Homo sapiens: one gene and its partners. The protein of the gene in region 1 purifies or fractionates together with the protein of each later gene. This does not show direct contact. Each region holds a gene or a part of one and is shown in the gene's direction. Other genes may lie near its edges.

The links.
Region 2: the proteins of MCCC2 (region 1) and MRPL13 purify together in Homo sapiens (co-immunoprecipitation; one large-scale study listed by IntAct). This does not show direct contact.
Region 3: the proteins of MCCC2 (region 1) and CMBL purify together in Homo sapiens (tandem affinity purification; one large-scale study listed by IntAct). This does not show direct contact.
Region 4: the proteins of MCCC2 (region 1) and KATNIP purify together in Homo sapiens (tandem affinity purification; one large-scale study listed by IntAct). This does not show direct contact.
Region 5: the proteins of MCCC2 (region 1) and DHRS4 purify together in Homo sapiens (co-immunoprecipitation; one large-scale study listed by IntAct). This does not show direct contact.
Region 6: the proteins of MCCC2 (region 1) and FGL1 purify together in Homo sapiens (co-immunoprecipitation; one large-scale study listed by IntAct). This does not show direct contact.
Region 7: the proteins of MCCC2 (region 1) and PPP2R2B purify together in Homo sapiens (co-immunoprecipitation; one large-scale study listed by IntAct). This does not show direct contact.

Annotation. Positions count from the first base shown.
Region 1 is NC_000005.10:71,653,340-71,656,272, forward strand, and holds part of MCCC2 (methylcrotonoyl-CoA carboxylase beta chain, mitochondrial isoform 1 precursor), read left to right. Parts: intron 1-2,933. UniProt on the Homo sapiens protein: Carboxyltransferase subunit of the 3-methylcrotonyl-CoA carboxylase, an enzyme that catalyzes the conversion of 3-methylcrotonyl-CoA to 3-methylglutaconyl-CoA, a critical step for leucine and isovaleric acid catabolism.
Region 2 is NC_000008.11:120,394,937-120,397,543, reverse strand, and holds the end of MRPL13 (large ribosomal subunit protein uL13m), read left to right. Parts: intron 1-1,418; coding exon 1,419-1,440; 3' UTR 1,441-2,107; downstream 2,108-2,607.
Region 3 is NC_000005.10:10,287,403-10,290,902, reverse strand, and holds part of CMBL (carboxymethylenebutenolidase homolog), read left to right. Parts: intron 1-121; 5' UTR 122-140; coding exon 141-355; intron 356-2,373; coding exon 2,374-2,481; intron 2,482-3,500. UniProt on the Homo sapiens protein: Cysteine hydrolase. Can convert the prodrug olmesartan medoxomil into its pharmacologically active metabolite olmerstatan, an angiotensin receptor blocker, in liver and intestine. May also activate beta-lactam antibiotics faropenem medoxomil and lenampicillin.
Region 4 is NC_000016.10:27,556,644-27,560,143, forward strand, and holds part of KATNIP (katanin-interacting protein), read left to right. Parts: intron 1-3,500. UniProt on the Homo sapiens protein: May influence the stability of microtubules (MT), possibly through interaction with the MT-severing katanin complex.
Region 5 is NC_000014.9:23,963,770-23,966,774, forward strand, and holds part of DHRS4 (dehydrogenase/reductase SDR family member 4), read left to right. Parts: intron 1-808; coding exon of another isoform or gene 809-829; exon of another isoform or gene 830-1,992; coding exon 1,993-2,063; exon of another isoform or gene 2,064-2,162; coding exon 2,163-2,214; exon of another isoform or gene 2,215-2,513; coding exon 2,514-2,648; exon of another isoform or gene 2,649-2,936; intron 2,937-3,005. UniProt on the Homo sapiens protein: NADPH-dependent oxidoreductase which catalyzes the reduction of a variety of compounds bearing carbonyl groups including ketosteroids, alpha-dicarbonyl compounds, aldehydes, aromatic ketones and quinones.
Region 6 is NC_000008.11:17,868,025-17,871,524, reverse strand, and holds part of FGL1 (fibrinogen-like protein 1 precursor), read left to right. Parts: intron 1-2,520; coding exon 2,521-2,609; intron 2,610-2,789; coding exon 2,790-2,977; intron 2,978-3,500. UniProt on the Homo sapiens protein: Immune suppressive molecule that inhibits antigen-specific T-cell activation by acting as a major ligand of LAG3. Responsible for LAG3 T-cell inhibitory function. Binds LAG3 independently from MHC class II (MHC-II).
Region 7 is NC_000005.10:146,872,258-146,875,757, reverse strand, and holds part of PPP2R2B (serine/threonine-protein phosphatase 2A 55 kDa regulatory subunit B beta isoform), read left to right. Parts: intron 1-3,500. UniProt on the Homo sapiens protein: The B regulatory subunit might modulate substrate selectivity and catalytic activity, and might also direct the localization of the catalytic enzyme to a particular subcellular compartment.

The DNA of each region.
Region 1 (2,933 bases):
CATGCCTGTCCCAGCTGAAGACCTGCTGGTGCCTGCTTTCACATCTTTCTTCAACAACTTTAGTGTTCTGCATTCCGAAGACTAATCTAAGCTTCATGTCTTCCTTTCATCCCTTGGGCAGATGGAAAAAAGAAAGTAACTCTTTCTGCATCTTGTAAAATTAGCTTATGTTGTAATTTATGCTGGCGAAGGCAAACTGGAGAGGAGAGGGGAGAGAAAAGAAAATCAGGCCAGGCACAGTGGCTCACACTTATAATCCCAGCATTTTGAGAGGCCAGGGCGGGCAGATTGCTTGAGCCCAGGAGTTCGAAACTAGCGGGGCAACATGGTGAGACCCAGTCTCTACAAAAAATATACAAAAATTAGCCAGGCGTGATGGTGTGCACCTGTAGTCCCAGCTACTCAGAAGGCTGAGGCAAGCAGATCAGTTGAACCTGGGAGGTCAAGGCTGCAGTGAGCCGAGATCATGCCACTGTGCTCCAACCTGGGTGACAGAACAAGGCCCTATCTCAAAAAAAAAAAAAAAAAGCAAAAGTTAGAGTCCATTACAATCATTTGAATGGTTCCTTGGTGGATACAAAGACAAAACATACTGATTTTCAAGAACATAATTAGTTTGAGGAGATAAATAATACCATTTGGGTGTGTGTATGTGTTTTTGTTTTTGTTTTCTTTAAAGACAGAGTCTCACTCTGTTGCCCAGTTTGGAGTGCAGTGACGTGATCTCAGCTCACTGCAATCTCTGCCTCCCGGACTCAAGCAATCCTCTTGCGTCGGCCTCCAAAGCTGGGACTACAGACATGTGCCACCACACCTGGCTAATTTTTTTGTATTTTTTGTAGAGATGGGGTTTCACCATGTTGGCCAGGCTGGTCTTGAATGCCTGAGCTCAAGTGATCCTGCCTCGGCCTCCCAAAGTGCTTGGATTACAGGCGTGAGCCACCTGTAATCGTGGCTGGCCAATATTTGGGAATTTTTAAAGGTTTTTTGCTGAATATATATTTTTACAAACAAATTTACAGGTATATTTTATTGTGGTGGTTTGATTCATTTAATTAAGAACAAAATATTTTATAGTCTTTGAGAGCTAAACATGTTCCTGATTTTATCATCGTGTAAACAGACATATAGTAGCCAGTAAATGGAAAGAAGCAATAGAAAGCCGTATAAGAGGTTTGAGATGAAATATAAAATATATATTGTTAAGCTTTTCTATAGTTTTTTTTTTCCACATAAGATTTTGACTGAAATACACAGGGACAGCTGAAATATTAAAGTTTGAAAAATTGTGTATTTTGTGTGAGCTGTTAGCTTGTTTTTCAGCCCTGGCTAAGATAAATCATCTCTTGAGAAAGATTGCATCTTTTATTATTTTCATACTAACATTATTATTATTTTTTAATGGATTACATTCAAGGCAGAAGAGTAAATGGCCCAGAGAGACTTATCTTTGGAAATAAATGTTAACAGACAGTAAAGTTTTCTGTGGATCTGTAGATTTTTTTTTTTTTTTTTTGAGACAGAGTTTCTTGTTGCCCAGGCTGGAGTGCAATGGCATGATCTCGGCTCACTGCAACTTCCGCCTCCTGGGTTCAAGGGATTCTCCTGCCTCAGCCTCCCGAGTAGCTGGGATTACAGGCGTGTGCCACCACGCCTGGCTAATTTTGTATTTTTAATAGAGATGGGGTTTCTCCATGTTGGTCAGGCTTGTCTCGAACTCCCAACCTCAGGTGATCCACCCGCCTCGGCTTCCCAAAGTACTGGGATTACAGGCATGAGCCACTGCACCTGGCCAGATCTGTAGATGTTTAACCCTTCTGTTGAAACAGCTGGTGGCATGGAGACAGCAGCTTTCTTTCAAAGCTGAAAGGATTTCCAAGCCAGTTTATGGTACCTTCCTTGGGTTTAGTAAATCTCAGCTTCACAGTAAAATTCCCTGGCCTGCTTAGGTTTGAACATGGCTAGATCTGTCTTTTCAGAGACAGAGCTTGTTATTATCAGTTACTGAAACCTACAATGTTTTCCTTAATCCTAATAGGTTACATATGTAGCGTGCCAATTTGCTTCTGCTCAGTTGTTTTTATAATCAAACTTTTATCCGGCATTTCATTAGTGCCTCTTACCTGGGGCAGTCTTTTTAATGAACATTATTAAGCAGCCCCTTCATCACCATGCTTGCTGTGCTGCAGGCTTCAGAGGGAGTGTAATCAATTCACCTGGTTGCAGATGACAAGAGTGGCTTTCTTTTTATTGGGTGTTGATACTTTAGGGTCCCTATTATGAATGTTTTATGAGCAAAGGTTTGATTCATGTCTGTCAATGTAAGAATGGTTTAATAGTTGATGCCAGGTTCAGATACCGAAGGGAGTTTATATAAAAAAAGCAAACTGCCACCTACTAATAACCTTTAAAAAGTAATATTTCTCAGTCATTTTTCGTTATACATTTGAGGTTGTCAATGAGAAGGAAACTAAAATTTCTACTTAAAAGTTTCTTCTGCAAGCAGTTTAAAGTTATTGTTTTTCCTATTGTAGCAAAAAATAAAGACCTACATTTGAAGGTATCTATTTTATTAATAAAATGTACTGAAGCTGGCCGGGTGTGGTGGCTCACGCCTGTAATCGCAGCACTTTGGGAGGCTGAGGTGGGCGGATCACCTGAGGTCAGGAGTTCAAAACTGGCCTGGCCAACATGGCGAAACCCCGTCTCTTCTACAAATACAAAAATTAGCCAAGTGTGGTAGCGCACTCCTGTAATACCAGCTGCTAGGGAGGCTGAGGCAGGAGAATTGCTTGAACCCAGAGGGCGGAGATTGCAGTGAACTGAGATCGTGCCACTGCACTGCACTCCAGCCTGGGTGACAGAGCGAGACTCCATCTCAAAAATAATAATAATAATAAATAAGATAAAATGTACTGAAGCCTATTCAATAA
Region 2 (2,607 bases), on another chromosome or scaffold:
TTGGAGCTGGCAGACTAGAATGGCTGAGTCGACCTAACCACAGAAATGGCAGCTGCCCCTCCCCCCAGGAACTTGTCCATCTCAGGCAGTCTCCAGCCTGTTGCACTGGTTGGCTGGATTTCCAATCCAGTGAGGCTTAACTTGTGAGATGCCATGGAAGTGGGGCCCGCAGAACAACACCGCTTGGCTCCCTGGATTCAGCTCCCTTCCTTGGAGAATTTATGGATGGATCTCCTGCCTTACCGGGATTCCTGGGGCTAGAGTCTATTAAACTCCTGGGTCTCTGTGTGAGCCTGAGCAACTGCTCTGCCAAGACTCTGCACAGCTCTGTGTATTGGACCCAAGGCCCTGGTGGTGTGGGCTCACGAGGGTATCTCCTGATCCACAGGCTGCAAAGATCCGTGAGAGAAACGTGGTTTCCCAGGTGGGGGTCACACAATCACTCACTGCTTCCCGTGGCTGGGAGTGGGGGTTTCTTTGGCTCCATGCCACTCCCAGGTGGGCAGTCACTCCATCCTGATTTCCTTAGTTCTTTCTCCATGGGTCGAGTTGTCCGCCTAGTCAGTCCCAATGTGAAAACCTGGATATTTCAGTTGAAGGTGCTGAATTCACTTGCCATTTTCATTCCTCTGGGAGAACTGCAGACCACAGCTGCTTCTAATCAGTCATCTTTGCCAAAATATCTGTTTAGTTTGTTACCAACTTCCTTCAGAAAATTCCATATGGAAACCCAACACCTACAAATACACTTTTGAAAAGATAACAGGACAAATTGTTTGCATTTTATAATTTCCTATGTTTAATTTTGTCTATTGTTATAATTTAATACTTCTGAAAAATTTTTTTAATTGACTAATGAAAGCAGCTCTCAGGTGTGGTTAATCTTATAATTGCATAAATAAGGAAAACCAGTTATGTTTGTAAATAAATATTAAAGGACTGATGTTTATACACTTATTTTGTATATGGATCATAATGAAAATTAAATTTAGCATATGATAATATAAATAGGAAAAATCACTTACTCAAAATTTGCATTTGTACTATAAATCCATGTCTTCGTATGATTTTTAAACTCTTAAAGATTATAGTAATCTTTTCAATAAGGACTTTATAAAAGTTTAAAAATGGAACAGAGAAATTGAATTCAAATTATTAAGTTACTAAATACATTCTTATATAGGCACAAGGTGGCTTATATTTATACTTTCAAAAAGACTTTGGAGTTGTCACTTAACTGTTCTACTTTATAAAGATTTGATGTTAATGTTTTTTTTTCACCAAAAATTTAGATATAGTGTTTGTAGCTATTTCTTGGTGAACAGTTATTTTTATTTTAAATTGGAAAAATAATCCTCATCAGTCAGGAGAAAACAAAATAATGATTCATGAAGAAATATGTTGATTTTTTCTTTCAGACCTGAAGATTATCGGCTATAAGAGAATAAGAATTGCAGAAAATAACAGTGAAGTGATTGAAACTTTCTTCTGATGAGTTTCTCTAACCTACAGGATGGAGTAAAACAACTGCTACAGTTCAGCACCTGTTTTATGTGCCGAATCACTGTGGGGAAAGGTCAGGAAGGTATAGTCCTTCAATAGGAAATTGTAATTAAAATATAATTTTATAGAACCATTTTTATGTAATCTGATTTGAATGTTATAGTTGATAATAATAAAATCACTTACTTGGTTGACTATTTAGTGTTGCATTTAATGATAAAAAACAGACCCTGTGTATAGAATTGCAGTTACACATTCCAAAAATGCCTCTCCATGCAGATTTTCTCAAGTTTGCAGGTCACTATTCTTGTCCCTTGTGAACAAGCTCTACCTTCACTTTTCATTTCAGTGGCTTTTTTTATCTAACTTGTCATCCATCTAAATTCATATTTGCAGCTTAGTAGGGTAAAGTTTGCCCTGAAATATTTATAAACTGCTATCTTTTTCTGTGTCCCATATAGCCTCTTGGCCCCACAATGACACCAGAATACATAATGCCTGTCTGCTCGTTAGAAATCCCTCTTCCCTGCCAGTGATTCTGTTTGTAGACTCTCCACACTGTTTTCCCATATCTGTCCTGTTGGCTTCCATTCATCTCTGTACTGGCACTTAGATTGGGGTGCTGGGATGACTATTGCTTGTAAAATATGCTCTCTAGAAATTAAGATACTGAGCCACTGCATTTGAGCATTTTCATGGTGGTATTTTTTCATCTCTTGCCATAGCCAATCAAGGAATGAATTTCAGACCAACTTTCCCATTCATTCAGCAAACATATATTCAGTACTGCTATATACCAGGCACAGTGCTAGGTCCTGGGAAAACAGAAATCATACAAGTTGCCCCCAACACTTCCGTGCCCCATCAAAGAGTCTATTGTAGGATGGGAAGGAAGTATAGATAGATCTGTAAACAAGTAAAACTGGTTGTCAAATGTGCTAATACAACTGTGTGAATTATGATGTAAACATGTTTATTTAATAACTGCATTAAATATGACATAAGCACCTACTATGTGCCAGGCACAACCACTTTATATGAATTATTTAATTAATACATACTGTAATGGAGGTACTGTTATCCTCCCAATTTAAAGGGGACACA
Region 3 (3,500 bases), about 61 Mb from region 1:
TAATACCATAGATGTAGCTAAAATGAATTTTTTTCTATAATCTTGATTTGAGGTTTACTTACCATTTATAGCCTTTAGATTTGCAGCATTCAGAATATAACGCATGTTTCTCTCTCCATAGCCCGACTTAAATCTCTGCAATGGCTAACGAAGCTTATCCTTGTCCGTGTGACATTGGCCACAGACTTGAGTATGGAGGGCTAGGCCGTGAAGTTCAAGTCGAGCACATCAAGGCTTATGTCACCAAATCCCCCGTTGATGCAGGCAAAGCTGTGATTGTCATTCAAGATATATTTGGCTGGCAGTTGCCCAATACCAGATATATAGCTGACATGATCTCAGGAAATGGATACACGTATGTATAAAGTTGTGTTTCTTTGTTTAAATTCATACAAATTTCAGTGGTTTATTTTGTTCCCTTTAAAAAATAAAACCACAGCGGTCTGACTATACAGTATCTACTGTACATTAGAAACTTCCCTATCTCACTGCCGTGAAGATAGATGGGAAATGTCTTGGGAAATTAAACACCCACCTGGTGCTCCTAACCCCATTCCTGGGTTTCCTGTCCTCCTGGGAGTACCTGGCCTTTAGACTTGCTGGACATTGAGAATTCTTTTCCCGTGTGGGGCCTCAGCCAGACGCAGGCACTGGACATCTGAGGCCAGCCTCACCTGCTGTCAAATGGACCCGTGACTCGGTCCTTCAACAGCTCAGCCTCGTGTCAGATTTCACGGCCCATTTGGACGGCAGGGTGTCCAAGGCTCCTCCTGGTCCATACACGTACGGTCGTGGCCCCCTCTGAATTAGACTGGGGTTCAGAAGTGGCACAGTGAGACCTTGCTCCCCTCCCCAAGTTTACCTCTTTGTCTGGCCAAGTGGCCATGGCCACCTTTGGCCAAGGCTGATACCCGATTGCTTCTTATTTGCCCCGGTGTAAAGCGCAGAGGAGGGCCAGAACCTTCCTTCCTCTCCAGCGTCGGAAAGCATCAACCCAGTGAGCCCTGAGGATGGTGCACGGCTGGATTTCCTTTGTTTTCACAGAAGGAGAAGCTGGAAACCCGAGGATGAGCCTACCTTGTTTTTCTAGGAAGAGAAACTGGCTTAAAGGAATCATGCCCACCCTGGTGGGATGCAGAGTCGGTGCTGAATGAAAAGACCTTCCTTGAAGTTTTCCTTTTTCACGTCCCCATGTGAGGGGACTTAACTTTCTAGGGGCAAGCCCAGTAAAAATAAATAAGTAAATAAATAGCTAGTTTCAGTTGCTCAGCCAGACGCAGTGCTGAGGGCATGACTGGGCTCATTGCCCTTAGTCCTCCTGGCAGCCCCTTGAGGGAGGAGCTGTTATTGCTCTCATTTTGCAGATTAGGAAACCAGGCCATAAAGAGAGCGCTTTGCGGCTGCCCCAGATCACTGGCCCAAGCAGCCGATCAAATGGCATTGCTGTTTCTGTTGTTTCACGGAGGGTCCTTTAGCAGGGGTCAGGACATAAAAGATAAGGAAAGACCCCTGTTTTACAAAGCCCTTTCACAGGTATACAACTTTTTTTGCCCTCGAGAGGATCCTCTGGGGTTAGGCAGTGCAAGTTTGTCAGATGAGAAAATGAGGCTAGAAGCGGTGACATGACTTGTGAAGGCCAAGGCCACACAGCAGCATGGGGTGTACCGAGCCTCGAACTTGGATTTTCTCACTCCAGTTTCAGTGTTCTTCTACCCCTATAGGAGGAGCCCTGTTCCTCCAACCAGGTGGCAATTCTATTTTGGGAAACAGGACTCAACCCCAGCGGCTGGCTCTATCCCTCTGGGTTGACTTGCATGGAAGAGCGACCTGGACTGGGGCCAGGCTTGTTTGTGCTCTGCTGCCCGTCTTAGAACATACCCTCTGGATAGGAAACTGTGCTTCGTCGCCGTCTTGGTGGAGGCTGGGAACATTGCCTGGTCATAGTGACTGGACAAGTTAGCCAGGTGTGCCCTCTGGCCTGAGGCTCATGTGAAAGGCCAGGAGTCTCCCCAGGCTGGCTGAGAGGGGCAGGAGGGGCCCTCAAAGCCACCCACGTCAGGCCCACTCCCCCAGGTGCCTCCACATCCCATGCCAGCCTATCCCATGGGAGTGTGCCCTGTGGATAGCCTCATTGCCAGGGCTGGGTTACCAGCAGGCTGCCAGACGCTGTGCACCTGCGGTTGTGAAACCTAAGAGGGCTTGGCCCGGTGCCAGGTGGCTGCTTTGCTGCGATCAAAATTGGCCTTCACACCCACTACTTTTCCTTTTCTCTGAGCCAGAATCGCCAACGTAGCAAGTTTTTAAATAAATGCAAGCAAAATACTGAGTCAAGCAACTCTGAAACTAAGATCAATTCATGTCCATATTTTGCAGAACCATTGTTCCAGACTTCTTTGTAGGGCAAGAGCCTTGGGACCCCTCTGGCGACTGGTCTATCTTCCCTGAGTGGCTGAAAACAAGAAATGCCCAGAAGATCGATAGGTGAGTTATCCGCAGACGTGGCCATGTGCACGTTGTGGCCCAGGGAGGTGAGAGCTGGGTGGGCTTCACCTTTCAGACACTACTCCTTACCTTGGGGTAGGACTTCTCCATGGCCAATGGAATCCTTCCCCTGGCACAAAGGAGAAAAAATTTTTTTTTGTTTTTGCTCTGTTGGAGCCCAGGCTGGAGAGCAGTGGCATGATCTCGGCTCACTGCAACCTGTGCTTCCCAGGTTCAAGCAATTCTCCTGCCTCAGCCTCCCGAGTAGCTGGGATTACAGGCGCCTGCCACCAGCCCGGCTAATTTTTGTATTTTTAGTAGAGACGGGGTTTCACCATGTTGGCCAGGCTGGTCTCAAGTGCTGGGATTTTTTTTGTAATTAAAATTTTTAGGCCGGGCATGGTGGCTCACACCCGTAATCCCAGCACTTTGGCAGGCTGAGGCTGGCTGATCACTTGAGATCAGGAGTTTGAGACCAGCCTGGCCAACATGGTGAAACCTGCCTCTACTAAAAATACAAAAAACAAACAAACAAACCAAAAACTTAGCTGGGTGTCATGACGCACGCCTGTAGTCCCAGCTACTTGGGAGGCTGAGGCATGAGAATTGCTTGAACCTGGGAGACGGAGATTGCAGTGAGCCAAGATGGCACCACTGCACTCCAGCCTGGGGGACAGAGCGAGACTCCATCTCAAAAAAAAAAGAAATTAATTAATTAAAAATTTTAAAATAAAATAGAGATGGGGTCTCACTATAGGCGTGAGCCACTGCACCCAGCGGGGATAGCATTCTTTATGTGATGATGATCAATATCAAACAATATTTTTATGAGCACCATCTATGAAAATAGAGATTTTAGTGCATCTGTCACCGAGTAGTGTACAGTTTACCTAATATATAGTTTTTTGGCCCTCACACCCTCCCACCCTCCCCCTTCTGAGTCTCCATAGTCCATTATATCACTCTATGTGCCTCTGTGAATCTACTCATAGCTTAGCTTCCACTTATAAGTGAGAACA
Region 4 (3,500 bases), on another chromosome or scaffold:
CAAACAGGTGATGGTTGAATTAGGAAGGTTTTGCTGAGAGTACACCATCGGTTTAGCTGGTCTCTCCTGTCCTTGTGTGGTATTTACCTGGCTTCTTGGTGATTTGTCTGTTTCTCTTACTACTTAAACCCAGCAAAAAAAATAATAAAATAACAATCAAATGCAATAAAACAAAGCAAGCATTCAGCAGGTGAAATAAACATACATCCCATAGACTCTTTGTGTCTGTTCTGTTTTCTTCTTGTTCCAATCCTTCTATCTGATTAGTTTCTTTTCTCTCAGATTTTTTCAGAGTTCGTTCCTCCTGTCACTTTAACTTATAGGAAGTCGGCCCATAATGTTTTGCTTATTTTTCCTTATGAGATTCATTCCATGATTCAACATTTCAGTGCCTTCCGTGCATTGGAATTCAGAGATGCCAAAATGAGTAAGATTGAATCCAGGTGAAGGCGATATGGGAATTCATTGTACTATTCTTGACATTTTTCTGTGAAGTTGATTTTTTTTTTTTTTTTTGAGGTGGAGTCTCACTTTGTAGCCCAGGCTGGAGTACAGTGGCGCGATCTTGGCTTACTGCATCCTCCGCCTCCCGAGTTCCAGTGATTCTGCTGCCTCAGCCTCCTGGGTAGCTGGGATTACAGGCACATGCCACCACGCCCAACTAATTTTTGCATTTTTAGTACAGACGGGGTTTCACCATGTTGCCCAGGCTGGTCTCGAACTCCTGACCTTAGGTGATCCAACCCTACCCCTTGGCCTCCTAAAGTGCTACGGTTACAGGTGTGGATTTTTTTTTTTTTTTTTTTGAGACAGAGTCTTGCTCTGTTGCCCAGGCTGGAGTGCAATGGTGAGATAACTCACTGGTGCGTCCATCTCCTGGCTCAAGCGATCGTCCCATGTCAGCTGTCCAAGTAGCTGGGACTACAGGTGTGTGCCACCATGCCCAGCTAATTTTTTATTTTTTGTGGAGATGGGGGTCTTGCTATGTTGTCCAGGCTGGTCTCCATCTCCTGAGCTCAAGTGATCCTCCCACCTTGGCCTCCCAAGTTGCTAAGATTACAGGCATGAGCCACTATGCCTGGCTGGAAATGAATTCTTTATATCAGAGCTTGCACAAGTGGGCTGAAACAGCCCACATGCATGTTTATTTGGCTCATAATGTTTTGTTTTTTAAATTTTTGAATTAGTTGTCAACATTGAAAAATGAGCAGATTTCTTATAAATACCTGATTGTGGTATTTTCTTGAAAATATCAATAAAGTCTGTTAACACCAAATCAGAATTCTGCATGGCAACAATTGTCCCACCACCCGAGTTAAGTGGAGACTTTGCCCTTTAAGAGGGAGGTGGGCCTGTCTAATGACTGGCTTCTCTCATTGTGTCTGTCACTCCTAGGCCTGTCAGCATTTGTACTTAGAATTCTACTTTAGTATTAACTTGTACAGTTGTGAAAACTCCTGTGGACTTCCTTGTATGCCATACTGGACTATACTTATTCTTTTTGTTTGTTTTTTTGTTTTTAGATAGAGTCTTGTTCTCTCACCCAGGCTGGAGTGCAGTGGTGCGATCTCAGCTCACTACAGCCTCTGCCTCCTGGGTTCCAGTGATTCTCCTGCCTCAGCCTCCTAAGTAGCTGGGATTACAGGTGTGTGCCACCACACCTGGCTAATTTTTGTATTTTTAGTAGGGATGGGGTTTCATATGTTGGCCAGGCTGGTTTCGAACTCCTGACCTCAAGTGATCTGCCTGCCTTGGCCTCCCAAAATGCTGGGATTACAGGCATGAGTCACCATGCCCAGTTTCTTTTTGTTTTAATCTGAAAAAAAGGGAATATATTATCTGCCTTTAGAAACTTCATAGTATGGTGAGAAAGCAGACATAAACAGATGACTACATTTCAACATGGGAGTCCTTAGAAGATAATATTTGTAGAGGTCTTCCCCTTTCCCAAAGCAGTGTGGCCCACTGCCTGCTATTGTAAATAAAGTTTTATTGGAATGCAGCAGCACCCTTTCACATACATATAGTCCATGGCTGTTTTCTTGCAGAGTTGAGTAGTTGTAAAAGAGACTTATGTGGCCCACGGGCCAAAAATATTTACTATCTGGGCCTGTACAGGAAACGTTTGCTGACTGTTGCCGTGGCAGATCTGATTTGATTCCTGAGACAGCTCAATGGGATACTGTGATTGTGTCTGTTTTATACCACACACCTAGTAGGTAGCAGAGCCAGGACTCAGTCGAATAAGGTCTACACTTGGTAGTATGTTATGGAAGGCCCATTTCAGCCTTGTTACTGCCAGTGTGTGGCCAGGTTCTCACACCTGGAGAGTGAGTCTGTGGGGAAGAACTGGCCACTGGGCTGATGGAATAATATACATTTTGAAAGGTACCCGTTTTGACTACATTCCCAGCTCCCTCAGCATCTGGTCCCATGACTGCTTCTCTCTTTCCAAATGGGAGTAGGCTAATGCAGAGCAATGTGGTTGGTTGCAAGGAAGAACTTGAAACTGTTTGCAGAGCACTTTATGTAAAAGTAAGAAAGTGTGACTACTGATGTCCCATGGGGCTTTGCAGCTTTAACAATTGCCCTATGGATCATATCACCTTGAAGTATAGAATTTCTCTGGGGAATTAGCTCCCCTCCAGTCTCATCTTTTTAGACACTTGCCTACCTGCTCTCACACCCAGAGGTTTTACACTGCGCTGTACAGTGTCTATCAATATGTTTTTCCATATTCAAAAATAGTGATTTCAGGCCAGGCATGGTGGCTCATGCCTGTAGTCCTAGCACTTTGGGAGGCTGAGGCAGGAGGATCAGTTGAGCCCAGGAGTTTGAGATCAGCCTGGGCAACACGGTGAGACCCCACCTCTACAAAAAATTGTTAAAAATTATTTGGGCATGTTGACACATGCCTGTGGTTTCAGCTACTCGGGAGGCTGAGGTGGGATCACCTTAGCCCAGGAGGTTGAGACTACAGTGAGCTGTGATCATGCCACTGCACTCTAGCCTGGGCAACAGAGCAAGACCCTGTCTCAAAAAAAAAAAAAAAATAGTAAGGTCATGGTGGCTCATACCTATAATCTCAGCACTTTGGGAGGCCGAGGCAGGCGGATCACTTGAGGTCAGAAGTTTGAGAACAGCCTGGCCAACATGGTGAAACCCCGTCTCTAGTAAAAATACAGAAATTAGCCAGGCATGGTGGCACCTGCCTATAATCCCAGCTTCCTGGGAGACTGAGGTGGGAGAATCATTTGAATCCAGGAGGCAAAGGTTGCAGTGAGCCTAGATCGCGCCACTGCACACCAGCCTGGGCGACAGAGCGAGACTCTGTATAAAAAAAATAAATAAATAAAAAATCCAGGTGTGGTGGCTCACGCCTGCAATCCCAACACTTTGGGAGACTGAGGCGGGCAGATCACGAGGTCAGGAGTTCAAGACTAGCCTGGCCAACATGGTGAAACCCCGTCTCCACTAAAAATACAAAAATTAGCCGGGCG
Region 5 (3,005 bases), on another chromosome or scaffold:
TGCCTCAGCTTTCAACATGCCTTCCTCACTAAGCTTAATTGTTTCTAGCTTTTGATTTAAAGTGAAAGATGTGTGACTCTTCCTTTTGCTTAAACACTTACAAGCCATTGTAGGGTTAATAGTTGGCCTAATTTCAATGTAAATGTGTCTCAGGGAATATGGAGGCCCACAGAGAGGGAGAGAGATGAGAGAAGGGCAGAGCAGTCAGAACACACAACATTTTTCGATTAAGTTGACCTTCTTTTCTGGGTGTGGTTTGTGGTACCCCAAAACAATTATAATAAAACCATGAAAGATCACTCATCACAGATCACCGTAACAGATACAATAATAATGGAAAGGTCTGAAATATTCCAAGAATTACCAAAATGTGACCCAGAGACAAAGTGAGCACATGCAATTGGAAAAATGGCTCGAATTAATGCAGGGTTGCCACGAAACTGCAATTTGTAAAAAAAAAAAAAAAAAAAAAAAAAAAAAAAAAACACAATATCTGCAAAGCATAAGAAAATATGTGTCTATAACTTTTCTTTTAATTTGTATATTTTTTAAACTATCACAGTATGACAAATCCAAACATAATGGCTGATCCTTGATTGAACTCTGGACTTTAAAAAACACACACACACATTTGGGGGATAATTGAGGCCAATATGTTAGATAAAATTATCATCATTGTCAAACTCTTGGTTGTGATAACAGATTATGGTTGTGTAAAAGAAAATCCTTACTCTTTGGAAATGTATGCTAAGTATTTGGGGATAGAACATTGTACTATCTGCAACTGAGTTTACTTATTTTATTTTAGGTTATTTATTTATTTTTGTGATGGAGCCTCACTCTGTTACCCAGGCTGGAGTGCAGTGGTGCTATCTCAGCTCACTGCAACCTCCACCTCCCGGGTTCAAGCTATTCTGCTGTCTCATCCTCCTGAGTAGCTTGGATTACAAACACATGCCACCACGTCTGGCTAATTTTTGTATTTTTAGTACAGACGAGGTTTGCCATGTTGCCCAGGCTGTTCTCGAACTCCTGACCTAAAAGTGATCCACCCATCTTGGCCTCCCGAAGTGCAGGGATTGCAGGCATGAGCCACCATGCCCAGCCCTGAGTTTGTTTTTTTTTTTTAATTTACATTTTTTTATTTTTGTTCTTTGTAATTTTTGATTTTATTATATAAAATCTTTCAGAAAACTTGCAACTGAGTTTCAATGGTTCATTTAAAAAACTGTACAGATCTACAGAGAGGACAAATAGGACAAAATGTGAACAATTGGTGAATCTAAGTGAAGGATATCTAGACATTCATTGTACTTCTATCTCCAATTTTTCTGTAAGATTGAAATATTTTAATATAAGCAGTTGTCTAGAACAGTGTAAACAGGGTCATACATTTGTTTTAGATTATGGATGTGGGGATTCTGATTGTAGCCTGTCCCCCAGCTTCCCCAGAAGGTGACTCCTCATGATCCCACTTTCTAACCATGCCTAGCCAGACAGTCCTTCCTAGAGGGCCAAGAACATCTCACTCCCTAAGCCCAGAAGCCAGAGAAGTGCTAGAACAACCCCACATATCCAAGGTCAGGCCACATTTTCCCTGAGAAGCATGGCCTACTCTAGGGCAGGTAGTCTAGGGCAGGTCCAGGAGGCTGACAATTCCAGGCTCTACCTACTTGGAAGAAACAGAGAAAACACAGCTCAAATCCAAAGGCCCCTTCTGGCCCAAATCATACTTGGCTGATTATGAAACAAGATGAACCAGGCTCCATTTTTGCTCACCTGAACCTAATGTATCAATATCTAGCTGAGCAGCTGGTGAGAGCTACTTCTCCCTGAACCTCAGTTCCTTCATGTGTAAGATGCAGGTATATCATCCTAAGATCTTCGTCAGCTCTGACAAACATCCTAGGAACCCACTCTAACTCCTCATTTTTTCATGCCTCCTCCAGTGCTCTTCACTCATGCTGTTTCCCCTTCTTCTCTTGGCTTCAGACTCTGGACATTAATGTGAAGGCCCCAGCCCTGATGACAAAGGCAGTGGTGCCAGAAATGGAGAAACGAGGGTACAGAGAGTGAGAGAGAGCCTGGGTGAGAGGGGACACCACACGGGCTGAGGGCACTGGTCCACAATGGGAAGATGGTCAGCTCTCTTCTTTTTCCAGAGGCGGCTCAGTGGTGATCGTGTCTTCCATAGCAGCCTTCAGTCCATCTCCTGTAAGAACCCTTTTGTCTACCTCTTCCATCCCACCCTCCACTCCACATCTTTCCACCCCTCCTATTACCCAAGGAAGTTTGTGTCCCCTTGTAGAATCACACCACCAAGTCCCTGCCCACAAAATAGATGCCTTGCCTCCACAAACCACAACCTAGGGGAGGTTTAGCCACAAGACAGTTCCCTAACTCTGCCCCTCCCTTACAGGAGATCCCTATTGAGCACTGCCCTCTATGTCTAGTTATTAGAACCAAGAATGACCTGGAAACTATGAGTCTAACACATTCTCTTCTTTCTCCAGGGCTTCAGTCCTTACAATGTCAGTAAAACAGCCTTGCTGGGCCTGACCAAGACCCTGGCCATAGAGCTGGCCCCAAGGAACATTAGGGTGAACTGCCTAGCACCTGGACTTATCAAGACTAGCTTCAGCAGGATGGTGAGGAAGGGGAGCTTTGCATTTGACTGGGACCCCTTGAAAGGCATCCATCTTCTTGGACAGGGAAGCCCACTACCTGAGTCCTGAGCTCTCAGCCACTCCATTCTCCTTCCCTGGACTTTCCCATATTCCCTCTCTGTACCACCTGCCCTATACAAGCCACACTCTTATCACACCTTTTCTGAGGTATAGGCTGGAGACTGAGGTATTCAGACTGTACTCACACTGTTTCCTCCCTCCTTACATGGATGAGAATTGGAGAGACGCAGCAAAATGCATCACTAGAACCTGAAACAAATGAAACAGATGAGGGCAGTGGGGAGAGCTGGGAGCTAGAAAAAAATAGGAAGTGAAAGA
Region 6 (3,500 bases), on another chromosome or scaffold:
TAATAGAAGTTTTTTTTTTTTGTTTTTTTTTTTGAGACAGATTTTTGCCTGTTGCCCAAGCTGGAGTGCAGTGGCACAGCCTTGGCTCACTAAAACCGCTGACTCTTGGCTCAAGCAATTCTCATGCCTCAGCCTCCTGAGTAGCTGGGATTATAGGCGCACACCACCACACCCAGCTAATTTTTGTATTTTTAGTAGAGACGGTGGTCTCACCATGCTGACCAGGATGGTCTCAAACTCCTGGCTTCAAGTCATCTGCGTGCCTTAGCCTCCCAAAGTGCTTGAATTACAGGTATGAACCACCGCATCTCGTCTGTAATAGAATATTTTTAAAGACAGTTGACTTAGCCTGCCTTGCTGCTCTTATACACTCTACAGTCTTTTCTCCTGTGACCTTTACTACCTTGAGAGAGCTCCCTGGGGCAAGGAAATTGTGGTGCTAAATCAACAAGCCCAAGAGAGGCCCGCATCACCTCTTAAAGGGACTCCAGTCTTGAGGAATCCAGCATTCCCTGCCCCAACAGCCTTGAGTTTGTTTATAGGACTCCTTCAGGATGTTCTCGTCCTGGTGTGTGCACCCTTAAGCTTGAGGGGAGGCTAAAAAATGGCTTTTTTTTTTTGAGACAGAGTCTCACTCTGTAGCCAGGCTGGAGTGCAGTGGCGCGATCTCGGCTCACTGCAACCTCTGCCTCCCGGATTCAAGCAATTCTCCTGCCTCAGCCTCCTGAGTAGCTGGGATTACAGGCACGTGCCACCATGCCCAGCTAATTTTTGTATTTTTAATAGAGACAGGGTTTCACCATGTTGGCCAGGATGGTCTCGATCTCCTGACCTTGTAATCCACCCAACTTGGGTGTGAATAGAACTTGGATATGCAGCCTGGGATGTCCACAAGTGGATCCAAAGCCCCTTGCTATAAGTGATGGAGATGGGGATGGAAAGAGAGAAGAGGCCAACCAGAGATGGGGCCTAGGTGATAGGACTATTCAGGGACTCTCTTTCCCAGTGCCTCCATGGTCTGGCTTGAAACTCCAAGGAAAGTGAGGCTCTAAATTCTAACCCGACCTTACAGGTCATTGTTATATCTTATTTATCAAAGTAGGAGGATAGAACACATGTGATCTAATAATTTGATTTATAACATTTGGTGCCCCTGACAAGAGTTCTGTTTCTGAAAAAGGAATAGTCTTTGTTATTTCCAAACAATGGGAAAAAAAAGATTACTTGAAGGTAGCAATTATTTTAATCATTTTAAAAACATAATGCTCTTATATCGCCTAGAATTTTTACAGTCATTAAAGTATATCTTTAATGTTTAGAGATTTTTTGTCATCATATATCATTCTTTAGCATATATAAAAGATAATATGTACCCAATACATTGTATTCTTTTTTTTGTTTTTTTGTTGTTTTTTGCGACGGAGTCTCGCTCTGTCGCCCAGGCTGGAGTGCAGTGGAGCAATCTCGGCTCACTGCAAGCTCTGCCTTCTGGGTTCACGCCATTCTCCTGCCTCAGCCTCCCAAGTAGCTGGGACTACAGGTGCCCGCCACCATGCCCGGCTAATTTTTTGTATTTTTTAGTAGAGACGGGGTTTCACAGTGTTAGCCAGGATGGTCTCTATCTCCTGACCTCGTGATCCGCCCGCCTCGGCCTCCCAAAGTGCTGGGATTACAGGCGTGAGCCACCGCCCCGGCCCCATTGCATTCTTAAAATGCTTTCACATGTAGATATCAGTTCTTCAGAAATACCTTTTTACTCAGAGTCATTGATGTTAGTATATTTTCCAGTAATTATCATCATCTCTGCCATTGAGAATGTTGGTGGTACAGCATTTCTCCAGAATGTTTCCTTATTGCCTCTGAAATTCTCTTCCAATGACATCCACTCTACATACTTTGATGCTAAGAGTCTCTTGATCTTATGAGCCAGTATCAAACGAAGGTTTTCGGATAACAATTAGGATTCATATTTCTTCCTCAAATTATTCTTAAAGGGTTTCCTGGCTGATCTTTTATGCTATCAGGAAAATAACCAAGTTCAGGCATATGCAGGCAATGGCAACTACATTTTACAAACCTAGTGGCTCAGCTACTAGAGATTACACAATGTCATTAATAGCCACCATTTATATTCAAGATCAACATTCTTACTGAAATCAAGAAAAAGAGGTCAAACTATTAAAGGTAAAACGTCGACCCTTTCATTGTTAGATTGCTTTAAGTAATCACTTATTTTTTCTGTTGTTCATTATTCAGTGAATTGCACTAGGTTTTACCTCTAAGAGATCTAGTAGACATTTTTTAAATTTAATATTGTATCCATCATTTTTTTTCAAATAAATTACACGATAAAATGTTCATGTTATATATACAAAGGAGTCACTGTTTAATCTTTGAAAACTGATTCTTGGCCAAGGGAAATGGTAAAATTAAAATAGAGCTGTGAATTATTTTTAAACCGCAGTAGTCCGTGTCATGTCACACATTTTTAAAAATTATAATTGCTTGTTTCTTTTTTAGAAGACTACACTTTAAAAATCGACCTTGCAGATTTTGAAAAAAATAGCCGTTATGCACAATATAAGAATTTCAAAGTTGGAGATGAAAAGGTACTACAATTTTCTAAGAAGTAAAACCGTGAATAAATGCTTAAAATGTGCAATATAACCCTGGAGTCAGTGGAAATAAAAATATACAATAGAACCTGTTCTTTTGTTTATGAAATAAACTTAATTTTAAAATGGTCATAGAGGAACTCCACTGACAGCAGAAATGCCCTTTTTCTTTAGAATTTCTACGAGTTGAATATTGGGGAATATTCTGGAACAGCTGGAGATTCCCTTGCGGGGAATTTTCATCCTGAGGTGCAGTGGTGGGCTAGTCACCAAAGAATGAAATTCAGCACGTGGGACAGAGATCATGACAACTATGAAGGGAACTGCGCAGAAGAAGATCAGTCTGGCTGGTGGTTTAACAGGTTTGATGTCTTATGAGCATAGTTGTAATGGAGTTGATGATATCTCACTGATAGACATTAATTATCAATATAATATGTATGGTAATGTTAGTCTTTATTTATAATATTAGTATTATTAAGTAATCATTCTCATTAGAATTCTTCAGCAATGAAGTCGTTTTGAGGATTTGTTCATTGTGTACATTAGTAAAGTGTAAATGTCATAGAAATAAATTATTACTTTTACAAAGATCATTTGCAAACTGAATTATGGATGAGTTATAAATAGAAGGCCACAAATTCACACAAAGAAAGAGAGAGCATGTATATATATGGAGACTATTTGGCATCCTAATAACCAACTAGTTCTTCACCTGACCATATCACACAAAAGAGCCACCGTTATTGCTGTAATGCTTCTGTATAGTACTACTTTTCAATCACTATGGCTTTCATTAATTCATTGAGTCTAAGCCTCTCCCAATACAGAAATTTCCTTTACAATAATCCAGAAACCTAATTCTACCCTCTGACTGAATACATT
Region 7 (3,500 bases), about 75 Mb from region 1:
TATACCCTCTTACTGGGTGGGGAATTAGCTTCTAGTCCTTCCATAGATCTTGCTTTTCTGTTTCCTTTACTATTTCTACATTTTCCTCCTACCTGCTCAGTTATGTCAGATTGTTCTTTTTTTTCCTCCAAAATATCTCCTTCACATGTATTTCTGAATTTTTCTTCTGTTTGCTCAGATCATTCCACATTGCAGTGTTCTATTTAAAGCTGAAAGGTTTTTGCTGTGTAGTTAGTGTGAAGGACTCTAAACTCAATTTGCATTGTAAGTGGTGACTGCAGGCAAGTTCATCCAGCTAAGAGCAATGCAAATGCTAAAGGACACTTTCACCCAAGCTCCCCTCTCTCAGTCTCTTTCTCTCTCTCTGTCTTTCTCAAAAGAATGCATGGTGTGCATTTAATAAATAAATTTCCTAGGACTTTTTTTTAATTCTGAGCATGAAAATTACCACCCTCCCCTACCTTTCCTCCTCTTTTAAAGTTAACATCTTTGAGCATCTTCTATGTTCCAAGCACTGTGCTGAGCTCTTTATGTATAGCATTTCAATATATCTAAACCCTGTTAAATGGATGTTGTCATTTCCATTTTCAAAGAAGGAAACTGATGCAACTGAGGTCTGAAGATGTTACTAATTTGCCAAAAGTCACACATTCAATGGAAAACCTTGTCTTCAAACTCAAGCCAGTGTCTGAAGGCCAGGTTCTCCCACTAGGAAATTCTGCACTACTTCATTTTCCTTTAACCATCAGCTCTTATTCTGGGAAAGATTGCAATGGTTTTATCTCAGTGTATAAGCTATATTTCCATCAGGCATAAAATCCTTTGCAGGGAAAATTTGAAGTGTGTGTATGGGGTTATATAGAGGAAGGGCCTTGGGTAGGGTTGAAATTTCCCACAAAAATAAAGTCAACACAATGGTTTGATTTTTTTTTTCAGATATGGAACCCCAGGTTTCCTAACCAGGGATTCATCTCTCAAATCTCTCTATATGTGGGTTTCCTGCTATATTTTTAGGCTTCTGTTACAGCCAAGTAAAACCCTATCTCCATTATAGCAGTCTGTGAGTTTTCTAGATTAATCTTCCTACTTTCAAATGGGGCCACAGATAGACCAAATATTCTACATAGATGGGGTGTTTTAAAATAACTGCTCTGTTCTCAGTTTCCTTAGCTGGAAAGTGGGAATAACAATAGAACCTATGCCAAAGAAAAATTATTTGATGCAGAGAAAGCACTCAAGCACTCGGGATATGCCTAATACAAAGCCCACCCTTAATTCATTATAGCTGTTATTGTTACTTAATGTACTTCCTGGTTATATTCTGGCAACAAGTGGGTTCCACCTTCCCTCAGAAGCCTTTTTAAAAAACTGTCTTGTTTATACATATTAAAGGAAGAACAAGTTTACTATTCCAAGTAGCTCCTTTCAATTATTGATTCATTCTGCCTTTAATTCCTTCAACAAATACTGACGTTTTGCAGAGGTGATACGGGATGTTCCAATACAGACGTGGTCTCTGTCCTCAGGGATCTTTCAATCTAGCAAAGGAGATAGTATGAGACAAATAATTTTGCAAATAAATATATAGTTACCAATTGTGATAAGTGATATTTAGGAAAGGCACAAGATGCCTTGGGGTCATAAGGTGGAAAGGTGGATCTAATTTAGATCGGGAGTTCAAGGACAGCCTCTCAGACAGCTGAAACTGAGAACTAAAGGATGAATTTGCAATTAACAAGACCTGAAAGCATTTTAGGTAGAAGGGACAATAGGTACAAAAGCCCAGAGAGATAAAATAGCCTAACTGATTCAAGGAATGGAAAGATGACTATGGCTAGGAACAGGGAGAAGAGTGATAAAAATGAGAATGGAGTCTGCAGTTCATTTTGAAATGTACCAGAAGCAAGAAAGATTAATGCTAAGAGAGAGGGATGGGTAAATGGATAGACATATGATAAAGCAAGTATAAAATGTTAGTCACTGGCCAGCCATGGTGGTGTATGCCTGTAATCCCAGCTACTCAGGAGGCTGAGGCAGGAAATCGCATGAACCCAGGAGGCAGAGGTTGCAGTGAGCCGAGGTCGCGACACCGCACTCCAGTCTGGTGACAGAGCGAGACTCCATCTCAAAAAAAAAGTTAATAACTAAATTGAGGTGGTGGGTCTATGGATAATCACTGTAATTTTTTTTCCACTTTGCAGTCTGTTTGAATTTTCATAATAAAATGTTGGGGGAAAAAAAGACTGGAGAAGTATTCAGGGACCAGATCATATCAAGCCTTGTTGACCACAAGGAGTTTGGACTCTATCCAAAGATGAATGGAAAGCCATTAAGGAAAAGGGAAACATGATCAGATTTGTTTTTCTAGAAGTTTAATCTGGCTGCTGTGTAGGATGGGGTTAGAGAGCCAGGCATGTAATGAAAAAGAATGAAAGTTGGGAGATAATTAGGAGGTCATGGTGTGCTCCAGGATGGTGGCATCAGTAGAGATGGAGAGAATTAGATGGATTTAAGATACGTAATAGAGAAAGATTGCATTGCACTTACTTACTATGATTGGGTGCAGATGGAGAAGGTGATGTCAAGGACAACTCCCAGAATTTTGCCATGAAAATGGATGCATAATGGGGCGCATCACTAAAAGCGGAAACAGACTGAAAACTGATTAGTTTGAGAAGACAGTGAGACATCTAGTTTCACAGTGAGACTTGCAAGTAGACAATTGGATTTCTGGGTCTGAAGCTCAAGAGAAAGACCTGGACTAGATAATAAATTTGAGATTAAACATCACCAGCATATTAAAGGTACTTAAAACTGTATGAATAGATGAGATGCCTCAGATAAGAACATTTCAGGGCAAAATTTGAACCAATGAGTGAGAAAGTACAAGGAAGTGGATCTTGGCTTGGTATGAAGAAATTGTAGCAAAAAAGTACCTCACAATAGAATAGGGCCTTGGTAAGCATAAATAACCACACACTGATATTATTCAAGTAATACTATAATATATGGCCATTTCTCAGCAATGTGGTAGGATAAGAAGAGTCCAGTCTTGGATGAGTTGAGTTTAGAACGTCTCCAGGTTTGAGATCTGAGTGATTTGTGAAATACATTAGCTTTTTAGGGCCACAGAGAGTAAAAGTGAGGAAGTAAAGATTCCTCCTCCATCCCCCATTCCAAATAAGCTCAAGAAAGGGGAAACTTATAATGAATAAAGCTGGGAAGGTACATGAAAATGGCTTTTGATATGAAGATGCTGGGAAGGCATTGAAAAAATAAAAGGGGGTAGTGTCATATGATGGAGAGCTGCCTCATAGTTCCTTAAGTTGCTTTGGTATTTGTATGCAAATGCCAGATCAGAATGCTGTTTCCAATGCATATGGATGAATGTTTGAGCTCTCTGCTGTTCTCAGAGAAACCTGAAATGCGAGGTGAGAAGTAGCTGCCTTACACTATTGTAAATGACCTTTCTGGGGATGGGAAATGTTCTGCTACTAAAC